Linked DNA regions of Homo sapiens. The protein of the gene in region 2 interacts with the protein of the main gene of each other region in a pairwise test. Each region holds a gene or a part of one and is shown on either strand. Other genes may lie near its edges.

Region 1 (7,037 bases), on a different chromosome or scaffold from region 2:
CTGCCCCACTCGGGCCTGTCCCCACAGGTGAGTACCTCCTGACCGTGCTGGCATCTAATGCCTTCGAGAACCTGACGCAGCAGGTGCCTGTGAGCGTGCGCGCCTCCCTGCCCTCCGTGGCTGTGGGTGTGAGTGACGGCGTCCTGGTGGCCGGCCGGCCCGTCACCTTCTACCCGCACCCGCTGCCCTCGCCTGGGGGTGTTCTTTACACGTGGGACTTCGGGGACGGCTCCCCTGTCCTGACCCAGAGCCAGCCGGCTGCCAACCACACCTATGCCTCGAGGGGCACCTACCACGTGCGCCTGGAGGTCAACAACACGGTGAGCGGTGCGGCGGCCCAGGCGGATGTGCGCGTCTTTGAGGAGCTCCGCGGACTCAGCGTGGACATGAGCCTGGCCGTGGAGCAGGGCGCCCCCGTGGTGGTCAGCGCCGCGGTGCAGACGGGCGACAACATCACGTGGACCTTCGACATGGGGGACGGCACCGTGCTGTCGGGCCCGGAGGCAACAGTGGAGCATGTGTACCTGCGGGCACAGAACTGCACAGTGACCGTGGGTGCGGCCAGCCCCGCCGGCCACCTGGCCCGGAGCCTGCACGTGCTGGTCTTCGTCCTGGAGGTGCTGCGCGTTGAACCCGCCGCCTGCATCCCCACGCAGCCTGACGCGCGGCTCACGGCCTACGTCACCGGGAACCCGGCCCACTACCTCTTCGACTGGACCTTCGGGGATGGCTCCTCCAACACGACCGTGCGGGGGTGCCCGACGGTGACACACAACTTCACGCGGAGCGGCACGTTCCCCCTGGCGCTGGTGCTGTCCAGCCGCGTGAACAGGGCGCATTACTTCACCAGCATCTGCGTGGAGCCAGAGGTGGGCAACGTCACCCTGCAGCCAGAGAGGCAGTTTGTGCAGCTCGGGGACGAGGCCTGGCTGGTGGCATGTGCCTGGCCCCCGTTCCCCTACCGCTACACCTGGGACTTTGGCACCGAGGAAGCCGCCCCCACCCGTGCCAGGGGCCCTGAGGTGACGTTCATCTACCGAGACCCAGGCTCCTATCTTGTGACAGTCACCGCGTCCAACAACATCTCTGCTGCCAATGACTCAGCCCTGGTGGAGGTGCAGGAGCCCGTGCTGGTCACCAGCATCAAGGTCAATGGCTCCCTTGGGCTGGAGCTGCAGCAGCCGTACCTGTTCTCTGCTGTGGGCCGTGGGCGCCCCGCCAGCTACCTGTGGGATCTGGGGGACGGTGGGTGGCTCGAGGGTCCGGAGGTCACCCACGCTTACAACAGCACAGGTGACTTCACCGTTAGGGTGGCCGGCTGGAATGAGGTGAGCCGCAGCGAGGCCTGGCTCAATGTGACGGTGAAGCGGCGCGTGCGGGGGCTCGTCGTCAATGCAAGCCGCACGGTGGTGCCCCTGAATGGGAGCGTGAGCTTCAGCACGTCGCTGGAGGCCGGCAGTGATGTGCGCTATTCCTGGGTGCTCTGTGACCGCTGCACGCCCATCCCTGGGGGTCCTACCATCTCTTACACCTTCCGCTCCGTGGGCACCTTCAATATCATCGTCACGGCTGAGAACGAGGTGGGCTCCGCCCAGGACAGCATCTTCGTCTATGTCCTGCAGCTCATAGAGGGGCTGCAGGTGGTGGGCGGTGGCCGCTACTTCCCCACCAACCACACGGTACAGCTGCAGGCCGTGGTTAGGGATGGCACCAACGTCTCCTACAGCTGGACTGCCTGGAGGGACAGGGGCCCGGCCCTGGCCGGCAGCGGCAAAGGCTTCTCGCTCACCGTGCTCGAGGCCGGCACCTACCATGTGCAGCTGCGGGCCACCAACATGCTGGGCAGCGCCTGGGCCGACTGCACCATGGACTTCGTGGAGCCTGTGGGGTGGCTGATGGTGGCCGCCTCCCCGAACCCAGCTGCCGTCAACACAAGCGTCACCCTCAGTGCCGAGCTGGCTGGTGGCAGTGGTGTCGTATACACTTGGTCCTTGGAGGAGGGGCTGAGCTGGGAGACCTCCGAGCCATTTACCACCCATAGCTTCCCCACACCCGGCCTGCACTTGGTCACCATGACGGCAGGGAACCCGCTGGGCTCAGCCAACGCCACCGTGGAAGTGGATGTGCAGGTGCCTGTGAGTGGCCTCAGCATCAGGGCCAGCGAGCCCGGAGGCAGCTTCGTGGCGGCCGGGTCCTCTGTGCCCTTTTGGGGGCAGCTGGCCACGGGCACCAATGTGAGCTGGTGCTGGGCTGTGCCCGGCGGCAGCAGCAAGCGTGGCCCTCATGTCACCATGGTCTTCCCGGATGCTGGCACCTTCTCCATCCGGCTCAATGCCTCCAACGCAGTCAGCTGGGTCTCAGCCACGTACAACCTCACGGCGGAGGAGCCCATCGTGGGCCTGGTGCTGTGGGCCAGCAGCAAGGTGGTGGCGCCCGGGCAGCTGGTCCATTTTCAGATCCTGCTGGCTGCCGGCTCAGCTGTCACCTTCCGCCTGCAGGTCGGCGGGGCCAACCCCGAGGTGCTCCCCGGGCCCCGTTTCTCCCACAGCTTCCCCCGCGTCGGAGACCACGTGGTGAGCGTGCGGGGCAAAAACCACGTGAGCTGGGCCCAGGCGCAGGTGCGCATCGTGGTGCTGGAGGCCGTGAGTGGGCTGCAGGTGCCCAACTGCTGCGAGCCTGGCATCGCCACGGGCACTGAGAGGAACTTCACAGCCCGCGTGCAGCGCGGCTCTCGGGTCGCCTACGCCTGGTACTTCTCGCTGCAGAAGGTCCAGGGCGACTCGCTGGTCATCCTGTCGGGCCGCGACGTCACCTACACGCCCGTGGCCGCGGGGCTGTTGGAGATCCAGGTGCGCGCCTTCAACGCCCTGGGCAGTGAGAACCGCACGCTGGTGCTGGAGGTTCAGGACGCCGTCCAGTATGTGGCCCTGCAGAGCGGCCCCTGCTTCACCAACCGCTCGGCGCAGTTTGAGGCCGCCACCAGCCCCAGCCCCCGGCGTGTGGCCTACCACTGGGACTTTGGGGATGGGTCGCCAGGGCAGGACACAGATGAGCCCAGGGCCGAGCACTCCTACCTGAGGCCTGGGGACTACCGCGTGCAGGTGAACGCCTCCAACCTGGTGAGCTTCTTCGTGGCGCAGGCCACGGTGACCGTCCAGGTGCTGGCCTGCCGGGAGCCGGAGGTGGACGTGGTCCTGCCCCTGCAGGTGCTGATGCGGCGATCACAGCGCAACTACTTGGAGGCCCACGTTGACCTGCGCGACTGCGTCACCTACCAGACTGAGTACCGCTGGGAGGTGTATCGCACCGCCAGCTGCCAGCGGCCGGGGCGCCCAGCGCGTGTGGCCCTGCCCGGCGTGGACGTGAGCCGGCCTCGGCTGGTGCTGCCGCGGCTGGCGCTGCCTGTGGGGCACTACTGCTTTGTGTTTGTCGTGTCATTTGGGGACACGCCACTGACACAGAGCATCCAGGCCAATGTGACGGTGGCCCCCGAGCGCCTGGTGCCCATCATTGAGGGTGGCTCATACCGCGTGTGGTCAGACACACGGGACCTGGTGCTGGATGGGAGCGAGTCCTACGACCCCAACCTGGAGGACGGCGACCAGACGCCGCTCAGTTTCCACTGGGCCTGTGTGGCTTCGACACAGGTCAGTGCGTGGCAGGGCCGTCCTCCATGCCCCTCACCCGTCCACACCCATGAGCCCAGAGAACACCCAGCTTGCCACCAGGGCTGGCCCGTCCTCAGTGCCTGGTGGGCCCCGTCCCAGCATGGGGAGGGGGTCTCCCGCGCTGTCTCCTGGGCCGGGCTCTGCTTTAAAACTGGATGGGGCTCTCAGGCCACGTCGCCCCTTGTTCTCGGCCTGCAGAGGGAGGCTGGCGGGTGTGCGCTGAACTTTGGGCCCCGCGGGAGCAGCACGGTCACCATTCCACGGGAGCGGCTGGCGGCTGGCGTGGAGTACACCTTCAGCCTGACCGTGTGGAAGGCCGGCCGCAAGGAGGAGGCCACCAACCAGACGGTGGGTGCCGCCCGCCCCTCGGCCACTTGCCTTGGACAGCCCAGCCTCCCTGGTCATCTACTGTTTTCCGTGTTTTAGTGCTGGTGGAGGCCGCACGCTCTCCCCTCTCTGTTTCTGATGCAAATTCTATGTAACACGACAGCCTGCTTCAGCTTTGCTTCCTTCCAAACCTGCCACAGTTCCACGTACAGTCTTCAAGCCACATATGCTCTAGTGGCAAAAGCTACACAGTCCCCTAGCAATACCAACAGTGAGGAAGAGCCCCTTCCCACCCCAGAGGTAGCCACTGTCCCCAGCCCATGTCCCTGTTGCTGGATGTGGTGGGCCGGTTCTCACCCTCACGCTCCCCTCTCTGGACCGGCCAGGAGGCTTGGTGACCCTGAGCCCGTGGTGGCTGCTCCTGCTGCTGTCAGGCGGGGCCTGCTGGTGCCCCAGAGTGGGCGTCTGTTCCCCAGTCCCTGCTTTCCTCAGCTGGCCTGATTGGGGGTCTTCCCAGAGGGGTCGTCTGAGGGGAGGGTGTGGGAGCAGGTTCCATCCCAGCTCAGCCTCCTGACCCAGGCCCTGGCTAAGGGCTGCAGGAGTCTGTGAGTCAGGCCTACGTGGCAGCTGCGGTCCTCACACCCACACATACGTCTCTTCTCACACGCATCCCCCCAGGGGCCCTCAGTGAGCATTGCCTGCCTCCTGCTAGGGTCCAGCTGGGTCCAGTACACCAGAACGCACACTCCAGTGTCCTCTGCCCTGTGTATGCCCTTCCGCCGTCCAAGTTGGAAGGTGGCAAACCGGATGAGTATCCTGGGAGGGAGTGAGCTCACCGGCAGTGGCCAGGCCCCTGGGAAACCTGGAGTTTGGGAGCAGCATCCTCCATGGGTCCCCCAGTCCTTCCAGCAGGCCAAATAGACCTGTGTTGGAGGTAACCCCACTCCCACGCCAGGTGCTGATCCGGAGTGGCCGGGTGCCCATTGTGTCCTTGGAGTGTGTGTCCTGCAAGGCACAGGCCGTGTACGAAGTGAGCCGCAGCTCCTACGTGTACTTGGAGGGCCGCTGCCTCAATTGCAGCAGCGGCTCCAAGCGAGGGGTGAGTGTTGAGCGGGGTGTGGGCGGGCTGGGGATGGGTCCCATGGCCGAGGGGACGGGGCCTGCAGGCAGAAGTGGGGCTGACAGGGCAGAGGGTTGCGCCCCCTCACCACCCCTTCTGCCTGCAGCGGTGGGCTGCACGTACGTTCAGCAACAAGACGCTGGTGCTGGATGAGACCACCACATCCACGGGCAGTGCAGGCATGCGACTGGTGCTGCGGCGGGGCGTGCTGCGGGACGGCGAGGGATACACCTTCACGCTCACGGTGCTGGGCCGCTCTGGCGAGGAGGAGGGCTGCGCCTCCATCCGCCTGTCCCCCAACCGCCCGCCGCTGGGGGGCTCTTGCCGCCTCTTCCCACTGGGCGCTGTGCACGCCCTCACCACCAAGGTGCACTTCGAATGCACGGGTGAGTGCAGGCCTGCGTGGGGGGAGCAGCGGGATCCCCCGACTCTGTGACGTCACGGAGCCCTCCCGTGATGCCGTGGGGACCGTCCCTCAGGCTGGCATGACGCGGAGGATGCTGGCGCCCCGCTGGTGTACGCCCTGCTGCTGCGGCGCTGTCGCCAGGGCCACTGCGAGGAGTTCTGTGTCTACAAGGGCAGCCTCTCCAGCTACGGAGCCGTGCTGCCCCCGGGTTTCAGGCCACACTTCGAGGTGGGCCTGGCCGTGGTGGTGCAGGACCAGCTGGGAGCCGCTGTGGTCGCCCTCAACAGGTGAGCCAGGCCGTGGGAGGGCGCCCCCGAGACTGCCACCTGCTCACCACCCCCCTCTGCTCGTAGGTCTTTGGCCATCACCCTCCCAGAGCCCAACGGCAGCGCAACGGGGCTCACAGTCTGGCTGCACGGGCTCACCGCTAGTGTGCTCCCAGGGCTGCTGCGGCAGGCCGATCCCCAGCACGTCATCGAGTACTCGTTGGCCCTGGTCACCGTGCTGAACGAGGTGAGTGCAGCCTGGGAGGGGACGTCACATCTGCTGCATGCGTGCTTGGGACCAAGACCTGTACCCCTGCCTGGAGCTTTGCAGAGGGCTCATCCCGGGCCCCAGAGATAAATCCCAGTGACCCTGAAGCAGCACCCCGACCTTCCGCTCCCAGCAGCCACACCCACCGGGCCCTCTCCGGCGTCTGCTTTCCACAATGCAGCCCCCGCCCAGGAGGGCCCATGTGCTTACCCTGTTTTGCCCATGAAGAAACAGCTCAGTGTTGTGGGTCAGTGCCCGCATCACACAGCGTCTAGCACGTAACTGCACCCCGGGAGTCGTGGGCATCTGCTGGCCTCCTGCCGGCCTCCTGCGCTGCTGACAGCTTGCTGTGCCCCCTGCCTGCCCCAGTACGAGCGGGCCCTGGACGTGGCGGCAGAGCCCAAGCACGAGCGGCAGCACCGAGCCCAGATACGCAAGAACATCACGGAGACTCTGGTGTCCCTGAGGGTCCACACTGTGGATGACATCCAGCAGATCGCTGCTGCGCTGGCCCAGTGCATGGTAGGATGGCCCCACCTGCTCACCCTGCCCCGCATGCCTGCCAGGGCACTGGGTTCAGCCCCCCAGGGCAGACGGGCAGCTTGGCCGAGGAGCTGAGCCTCCAGCCTGGGCTCCTTCCTGCCATGGCGTTCCTCGGTCTCTGACCTGCTTCAGTAGCCTCAGCCGTTCTGTCCTGTGTGAACGCAGGGTGCCTCTCGGGGGACCCAGGGTGTAAAGAGGGGCCCAGATGTGGGGAGGGACTAAGAAGATGCTGCTCTGTGCCCTCCACTCTCCCCTCCCCTCCCCTCCCCCTTCCCTCCCCTAGCCCCTCCCCTCCTCCCCTCCCCTAGCCCTTCCCCTCCTCCCCTCCCCTAGCCCTTTCCCTTCTTCCCCCCCAGCCCTTCCCCTCCTCCCCTCCCCTTTTTCTCCACTCCCCTCTCCTCTCTCCCCTCCTCCTCCGCTCTCATGTGAAGAGGTGCCT
Region 2 (7,156 bases):
TACCACCTAGATGCTGATGGTGAACTGAGATACGTCTCTAGCTCCTGACTGCATCATGCTCACATGTCCCACATTGTATCTGATAGCTCTTTCTGAATGTCTAGTAGACATCTCCAACTTAACATGCCAAATACACAGCTCCTGATTCCCAAGAAAGTTCAGACTCCTATGAGAAATGTTACTGTACCAGTAATTCACTGTTCCTCAGCCCTGTGTTCCCAAGGCTAAGCTAGCTAAATACAGCAAATTGTCATTGATAAAGAGGCAACATACTATAATATATAAAATGTGATACATGTATGTTGTATACTGAAAATTGAATGAAATCAGGAACTATCCATATTTTTATTCACTAATAGTAAGATCTAATGAGTGTTTCTTTTGTGCCAGGTACTGTTAAGTGTTTCACGTGTTTTATGTTATTTAATCCTTTCTGTAATCCTACAGGTAGATATTATGGCCCCCCCTCCCCTTTTTTTTTTAGACCGAGTCTCAGTCTGTCACCCAGGCTGGAGTGCAGTGGCACTATCTCGGCTCACTGCAACCTCTGCATCCCGGATTCAAGTAATTCTCCTGCCTCAACCTCCCGAGTAGTTGGCATTATAGGTGTTGCACCACCACGCCCAGCTAATTTTTGTATTTTTAGTACAGACTGGGTTTCGCCATTTTGGCCAGGCTGGTCTCGAACTCCTGACCTCAAGTGATCCACCCACCACAGCCTCTCAAAGTGCTGGGGTTACAAGCATGAGCCACTGCATATGGTCCCATTTTCATATCAGGAAATGATACATGGGTACTCAGGGAGGTTAAATAACTTGTCCAAGGTCACAGAACTAGTTAATAATGGCTAAAATTTGAACCCAGACAGCCAACTATACTCTGAAGAGTCATGGTGGAAATTACAGCGCTATTTCCTACCCCAGGGTCTTGGGCCTATTCAAGTGAGATTCCATGCATTGTATTCTATTACTAGATGCTGTAGCCTTTAACCTATATGTGTATAGAACCCTCATGCTAAATGCTATGATTTGAATGTGTTTCCTAAAGTTCACGTGTTGGAAACTTAATCCCCAGTGCAACAGTGTTGAGAAGTGGGAGCTTTAAGGGGTGACCTTTAAGAGGGCGGTGCCCTCATGAATGGATTAATGCTGTTATTGAGGAGTGGGTTGGTCACCATGGGAATAGGTTTCAAATAAAAGGATGAATTTGACCCCCTTTCTCTCTGTCTCTCTTATGTGTGTGCACATGTTCTCTTGCCCTTTCACCTTCCACCATGGAATGAAACAGCAAGAATGCCCTTGCCAGATGCAGGCCCCTTGACCTTGGAATTCCCAGTCTCCAGAACCATAAGAAAGAAATTTCTGTTCTTAAGTTCATAATCAGAATAGAGGACAATATGAGCAGAGTGCTGCTTCTGCTAACATAGGTATGGAATGTGGGACAAAGAATTCTCAGAGAGTGAGCCACTGGGAAGTCCTAACTAAAATATGTGGCTACCGTACTTTTCTACTTGACACAGTCCTTGAGAGAGTGAATTAGGCAATGAGTGCAAATCCTTCAGGCTTTCCCCTTGAGTGACTTGGTAGACACTCAGTTAATTGCATCACTGGGGTTCACATCCACAGCTTTGCACAGCTGCCCCTTGGTCCCACGCCCACAGAACTGTGAGGCCTGCCTGTTCTTCCCACTGGGGCCTATTGACCTATTAGCTCCCACAGACACAGACACAAGCCACTGGGCACTGAATTTTAAAAGCTGATAATGTGGCAGCTTTAAGCAGTGAAAAATATTAGTGTGGAAAAGAAAGATGAGAAATCCAAGTCAGCTCTTGAAAAGCACTCATTTCCATAAATACTTTATTGAAACTGTTATTTTCAGAAAATGCCCAATTTCTGTCAGAAAAAAAAGTAATGAAAAGTCTTTTTTTTTCCTTCCAAACATATTGCATTATTTAGACTAAAAAAAAGCAAAAAACTTCTCAAGGATGGCTCTTTTCGGTAAAAAATTTTCAAACAAATGAAGTCTTTTTTTTGGTATTTTTTAAGGGTGGGTTTTTTATAAATATTATGCACAATGTTTTTGAAACATTTCCTGTCCTCAGTATACACCAACATACTTTTTGCTAAAAGCTTTCCAAAAATATGCTTATTAAACAAAGAAATAAATGCAAGACTGTATATGTTCTACTCATTTTGAATTAAAACATTCCCCTCTTCATCTTGCCTTTTGCTACATTATTTATCATGCTTTTTCACTTTTGAATAAAAGACCAATTTTTTAAAAACACGAACTATCCAATCCAAATGTTAATGCTCATCTTAGCTTACTTTCTTTTCTTTGTTTTCTAATCAGCAAACTCTATAAAGCCTGGTGTGTAAATAGGCAGTAAATATAATATTATTAAAAGATAAAACAGAGCAAAGAAACAGTATCAGCCGGTGTTTTGGGAGTTCTCACTTTTCTTTGTTTGTGATCACAATAAGGAAAAGAGATATCATATCTCTTTTCCTTAATTGTTATTTAGCATTGAAGACTAATGGAAAAGTCTAGCCAGATGTTTTAAAATAGAGACAAGATTTCAAGGAGCTATCTGTTATATTAGCTTTAAGTGAGTTTATCTTTTTAGGGTTTAAATGAGAAGACCATGTCATTCTTTGCTTAATGCACTGAAAATCTTTCATTTTAAAGGCAGAATCTCAGTAAAGAGGAATTCATATGCCTGGAAGCCTAAAAAAGTGTTTCATAGTGAAAGCCACTCATACATGTACATTATGTTCAGGAAATGCAAATGCAACAAGAAGGTGACCCTGACAATGGTTCTTCCAACCGTCACAGTTCCTGCCATGCAGCAGAAATTCTGAAGCTCTGAAAAACTGTCAGACTAGACATGCTTTTTAAAAAAGAAGAACACAGAAATTACTTACATCTGAGAGTTCCACCGTGAGGCCTCGCCTCTCCACTCCACAGACCTCTGCCTGGCCACGGATCCTTCACCCTGGCTTGACAGCTGGTTTAATCTGCAAGCCAGGGTGGAATGCGTGGTCTTGCACTTGCTGTTCTTTTCCGTCTTCGGAGGGCCAGCAGCCTGGTCATTTCCATGGCAACCAGGAGGAAGCTGCTGGCCTACCAGTCTCATTAACTACACGCAGGAGAGAACCTGCCTTGGTGACTGCTGACCACTCTTTTGGGGTTCTAAACTGGGAAGTTTCTAGAAGAAACTGAGGAGACTGTTGCTGTAGGCTGATCCCAAAGGATTGACACAAATGGAAGAAATTCTACTTTAGCAGGAAATTGAATGGATTAAATGTAGAGTACGGAGACTCCTTGATACTTTTACTTTCATGATTTATTCCACCTTTTTTGGTCTGATGAATTGTTACTTATGGTAAATGCCTGCACTACTGTATAAAGTGTCCTATCGTAGTTGTTCCAAAGAAAAAAAACTCATTTGAACTCCAAAGATAGACATTATTCTCTGTCTTTTTTAAAATTCATTTAAAAAAATATTAGAAGCCACAAAACCAATAAATAGGTAACAATTATTCTATGTACATTAACTGATAGTCCATGTGGGCTTCTATAACAAAATACCATTAGTTGGGTAACTTACAAACAACATATTTATTTCTGTAGGCTGGGAAGGCCAAGATCAAGGCAGATTTGTTTTCTGGTGAGGGTCTGCTTCCTGGTTCATAGATGGCACCTTCTAGCTGAGTCCTTACATGGTGGAAGGGAAACTGTGGTTTCTTCAGCTTCTTACAAGGGCACTAATCCCATTCATAAGGGCTCCACCCTCATGACCTAATCACATTCCAACATCTCCACCTCCTATGCTATCACATTAAGGATTAGGTTTCAATATATGTATTTTAAGGGAAGATAAATACCTGGGCCTTAACAACTGATGAAGTCTCACTAAATATGGGAAAAAAAGATAAGGCAGGGGTCCCCGATCTCCAGGCCACGGACTGGTACCAGTCCATGCTACAGTAGGAGTTGAGCAGTGGGTGAGCAAGAGAAGAAGCTTCATCTGTATTTACAGCCGCTCCCTATCAATCACATTACCACCTGAGCTCTGCCTTCTGTCAGATCAGCAGTGGCATTAGATTCTCATAGGATTGAATTGAGAATGCTATTCTATTGTGAACTATTGTGAACTGTGTATGCGAGGGATCTAGGTTGCATGCTCCATATGAGAATCTAATGCCTGATGATCTGTCACTGTCTCCCATCACCCCTAGATGGGACAGTCTAGTTGCAAGAAAACAAGCTCAGGGCTCTCACTGATTCTACATTATGGTGAGTGGTATAAGTATTTCATTATATATTATAATGCAATAATAATACAAAGTGCACAATAAATGTAATCGCTTGAATCATCCCCAAACCACCTCCTACCCCTGCCTGTCTGTGGAAAAATTATCTTCCATGAAACTGGTCTCTAGTGCCAAGAAGGGGACTGCTGAGATAAAGAAAAATCTTGCTAATTAAAAGCACTAGGAGTCTGGAGCAATTGATTTGTAATTACCCAGATACAGATTCTCCAATATGTTAAAGAAGAGAGCACCTCAGTAGGGAAATTTATTCATTCATTTATTTATTATTCATCTACTGAATCCTTACCACACACATGCACTGTGCCAGGAGATTTAAGGGGCACAGAGATCAATGTCATGGTTCTTGTCTTTAAGGAAGTTATACTATAGGAGGGGCAATTATGTAAGTTGCATCTGGGAAATGTTTGAAGGGAGATACAGACACAATGCAGGGGAATCCCAGTGAAGGTCGGCCTTTGCCAGGGAGACTGGTGAAGTCCTTGGGGAGAGGTAGTTTTGGATCTAGGCCTTAAGGGATGGCTGAGATCTGCATGGTCAGATGTGGGGGAAAGGACAACGATCTCTCATGGAGTGATTATTTGATGAACTGCGGATCCAAGCTGATGGATATATCCTTCCTCCTTTCTGCACCCAGAGAGCCTGGCACAAATGGCTTCTCGGTGGCCCACAGGATAAAGGAACTCAAGTAATTAAGAAAATTGCTGGAGCAAAGGTTTGGAGGTGGAAGAGTCCCAGGCCTATTCAGCCATTTGGAAAGCCAGTGAATCACAGCCAGAATAAAGGGAATTGAGAATAGAGAGAGGCTGCTATTGTTGGGTGATCAGTTTCAGCAAAGCACATATATGAATTCTACCATGTAAGAATAGCAAAGTGGATCTTGGTTCAAACCTTGAGTCTGTTACCTTCTTGCACATTATTTAAACTTTATAAGCCTCAGTTTCCTTATCTATAAAGTGGGTATAATAATACTTTGTTGAAAGGTAGAGCTGAGGAAAAAATGAGATAATATATGTGCACTGGATGCCTGAAGATGAGGGAGGGAAAGGCTGGCCAACAATACACCGAATACCCCAACTTTCCAGAGCAACTGTGGCTAATCCAATGGTTTGGCGTACTCAACCTCTATTTCAACATCTTTCTGTCTTGCCTGCCTCTACTGTAGAGACTGGAAATCTCTATTATTCAACACAACAGAGTCTCTTGAAGCTGAGGTTTCAGATGGGATTTAAGTTTTATTATTTATACTTGATTCAGAATGAAGTCACGTGGAGAGAGGATCCTGAGACTTTGGGAATGAATTAAGTGAGAAGAGAGAGGAGAGTACTGGGAATCTCTTGCTGGCCAGGGTCTCAGCAGATATGGCATGGTCTGTTGTGGGGGTGGCCTTCTGACTGAGTTGTTGACTGGTTGTGGCCAATATGGCATGGCTCAAGAGCTGAGGACTGTGGCACTAACTTCCTGTTGGAGAATGTGGCCTCTTAATTCAGCAACTTCCTGGTTGTGGATGAGGTAGTAGCTCCCCATGATGGTTCAATTCTATGGTGACTTTCAGAGTTCAGTCTAGAATCCATTTCTTCAGTCCTTCCAATGACTCAAGGCAGTATCTGTATATCTGAAGAAATTCCTGGTTTAAACCAGCTAGAGTAGACTCTGTTGCCTGTAACCAAGAACCCTGAATTATATACTAGTGCCTTAATTCTGTCCAATACAAGGTGACAGAGTTTGGATATATGTCCCCGCCCAAATATCATGTGGAATTGTAATCCCCAATGTTGGAGGTGGGGCCTGGTGGGAGATGATTGGATCATGAGGGTGGATTTCTCATGAATGCTTGATGCTGTCCTCACGATAGTGAGTTCTCATGAGATCTGGTTGTTTAAAAGTGTGTGGCACTTCCCCACACCTACTCCTGCTTTCCCCATGGGACACACCTGCTCCCCATTCACCTTCTCCACGATTGTAAGTTTCCTGAGGCCTCTTCAGAAGCCAAGCAGATGCTGCTATGCTTCCTGTACAGCCCACACAACCATGAGACAATTAAACCTCTTTTCTTTATAAATTACCCGGTCTCAGGTATTTCTTTATAGCAAGGCGAGAATGGCCTACTATACAAGGTAAGTGGAAGTTTGCTGGTACTGTCTCTTCTACTTCTTTATTTTAATGACTAAGATAAACAGCATAAGGTATTTAGTGTAAACTGAGCACAAATAAGGCAGCCAGTAATGGTAGCTACTATATTGATTACTCTTTGTGACTTTCTCTATTTATGACTCGGATGCCTTCCAGGACCTCTTGCTTAGTGGGGTTCCTGGCTGAAGGCAAAGAGTGTGAAGAGCCAGGTACTTCCCTGGAAACTTGAAGGCCAAACATGCAGCTGCTGATGGAATGTGGCTGGGGCCCTGTGTATGGCATGTTAAACATTTACCCCAGGTTTTATATCTCCCTGTCTTTTTAAAGCATTTACTTCCACTGGCTCTTTGTGTTAACCGGTCACATAGTTTAAGTTGATTTAGCAGCAATGAGTATTGGGAAGGTTAATAAAACCACACCTCAGACTGCCTGTTTTGTTCAGCTGTGGAGCCAACGGGTGGTGGACAAGTGTTTGTTCACAATGAGATGGAATTCTAGCTTTGTCCTTGACCAATTTTGTTTTCTTTCTCCGTTTTATTTTTTATCATAAAAGCAATGCAGTTTTTCTGATAGCACATTCAGATAATATCCAATGTATTAAGCAAAAGTGAAAATCCACACCCCCCTCTACAACTGATCTTCTGGAAATAATGTCTGGTGTAAGTCTGCAGTGAAGCAAATCTTGCTTG

The links. Proteins that work in one complex are often made in the same cells at the same time.
Region 1: the proteins of EPCIP (region 2) and PKD1 interact in binary tests that used the Homo sapiens proteins (3 or more experiments, as listed by UniProt).

The regions. Positions count from the first base shown.
Region 1 is NC_000016.10:2,104,862-2,111,898, reverse strand, and holds part of PKD1 (polycystin-1 isoform 1 precursor), read left to right. Parts: intron 1-27; coding exon 28-3,647; intron 3,648-3,866; coding exon 3,867-4,016; intron 4,017-4,950; coding exon 4,951-5,094; intron 5,095-5,145; exon of another isoform or gene 5,146-5,221; coding exon 5,222-5,501; intron 5,502-5,594; coding exon 5,595-5,808; intron 5,809-5,874; coding exon 5,875-6,034; intron 6,035-6,424; coding exon 6,425-6,577; intron 6,578-7,037. UniProt on the Homo sapiens protein: Component of a heteromeric calcium-permeable ion channel formed by PKD1 and PKD2 that is activated by interaction between PKD1 and a Wnt family member, such as WNT3A and WNT9B. Both PKD1 and PKD2 are required for channel activity.
Region 2 is NC_000021.9:32,810,668-32,817,823, forward strand, and holds the start of EPCIP (exosomal polycystin-1-interacting protein precursor), read right to left. Parts: upstream 3,037-7,156; 5' UTR 2,925-3,036; intron 1-2,924. UniProt on the Homo sapiens protein: Likely to be involved with PKD1 in the detection, sequestration and exocytosis of senescent mitochondria.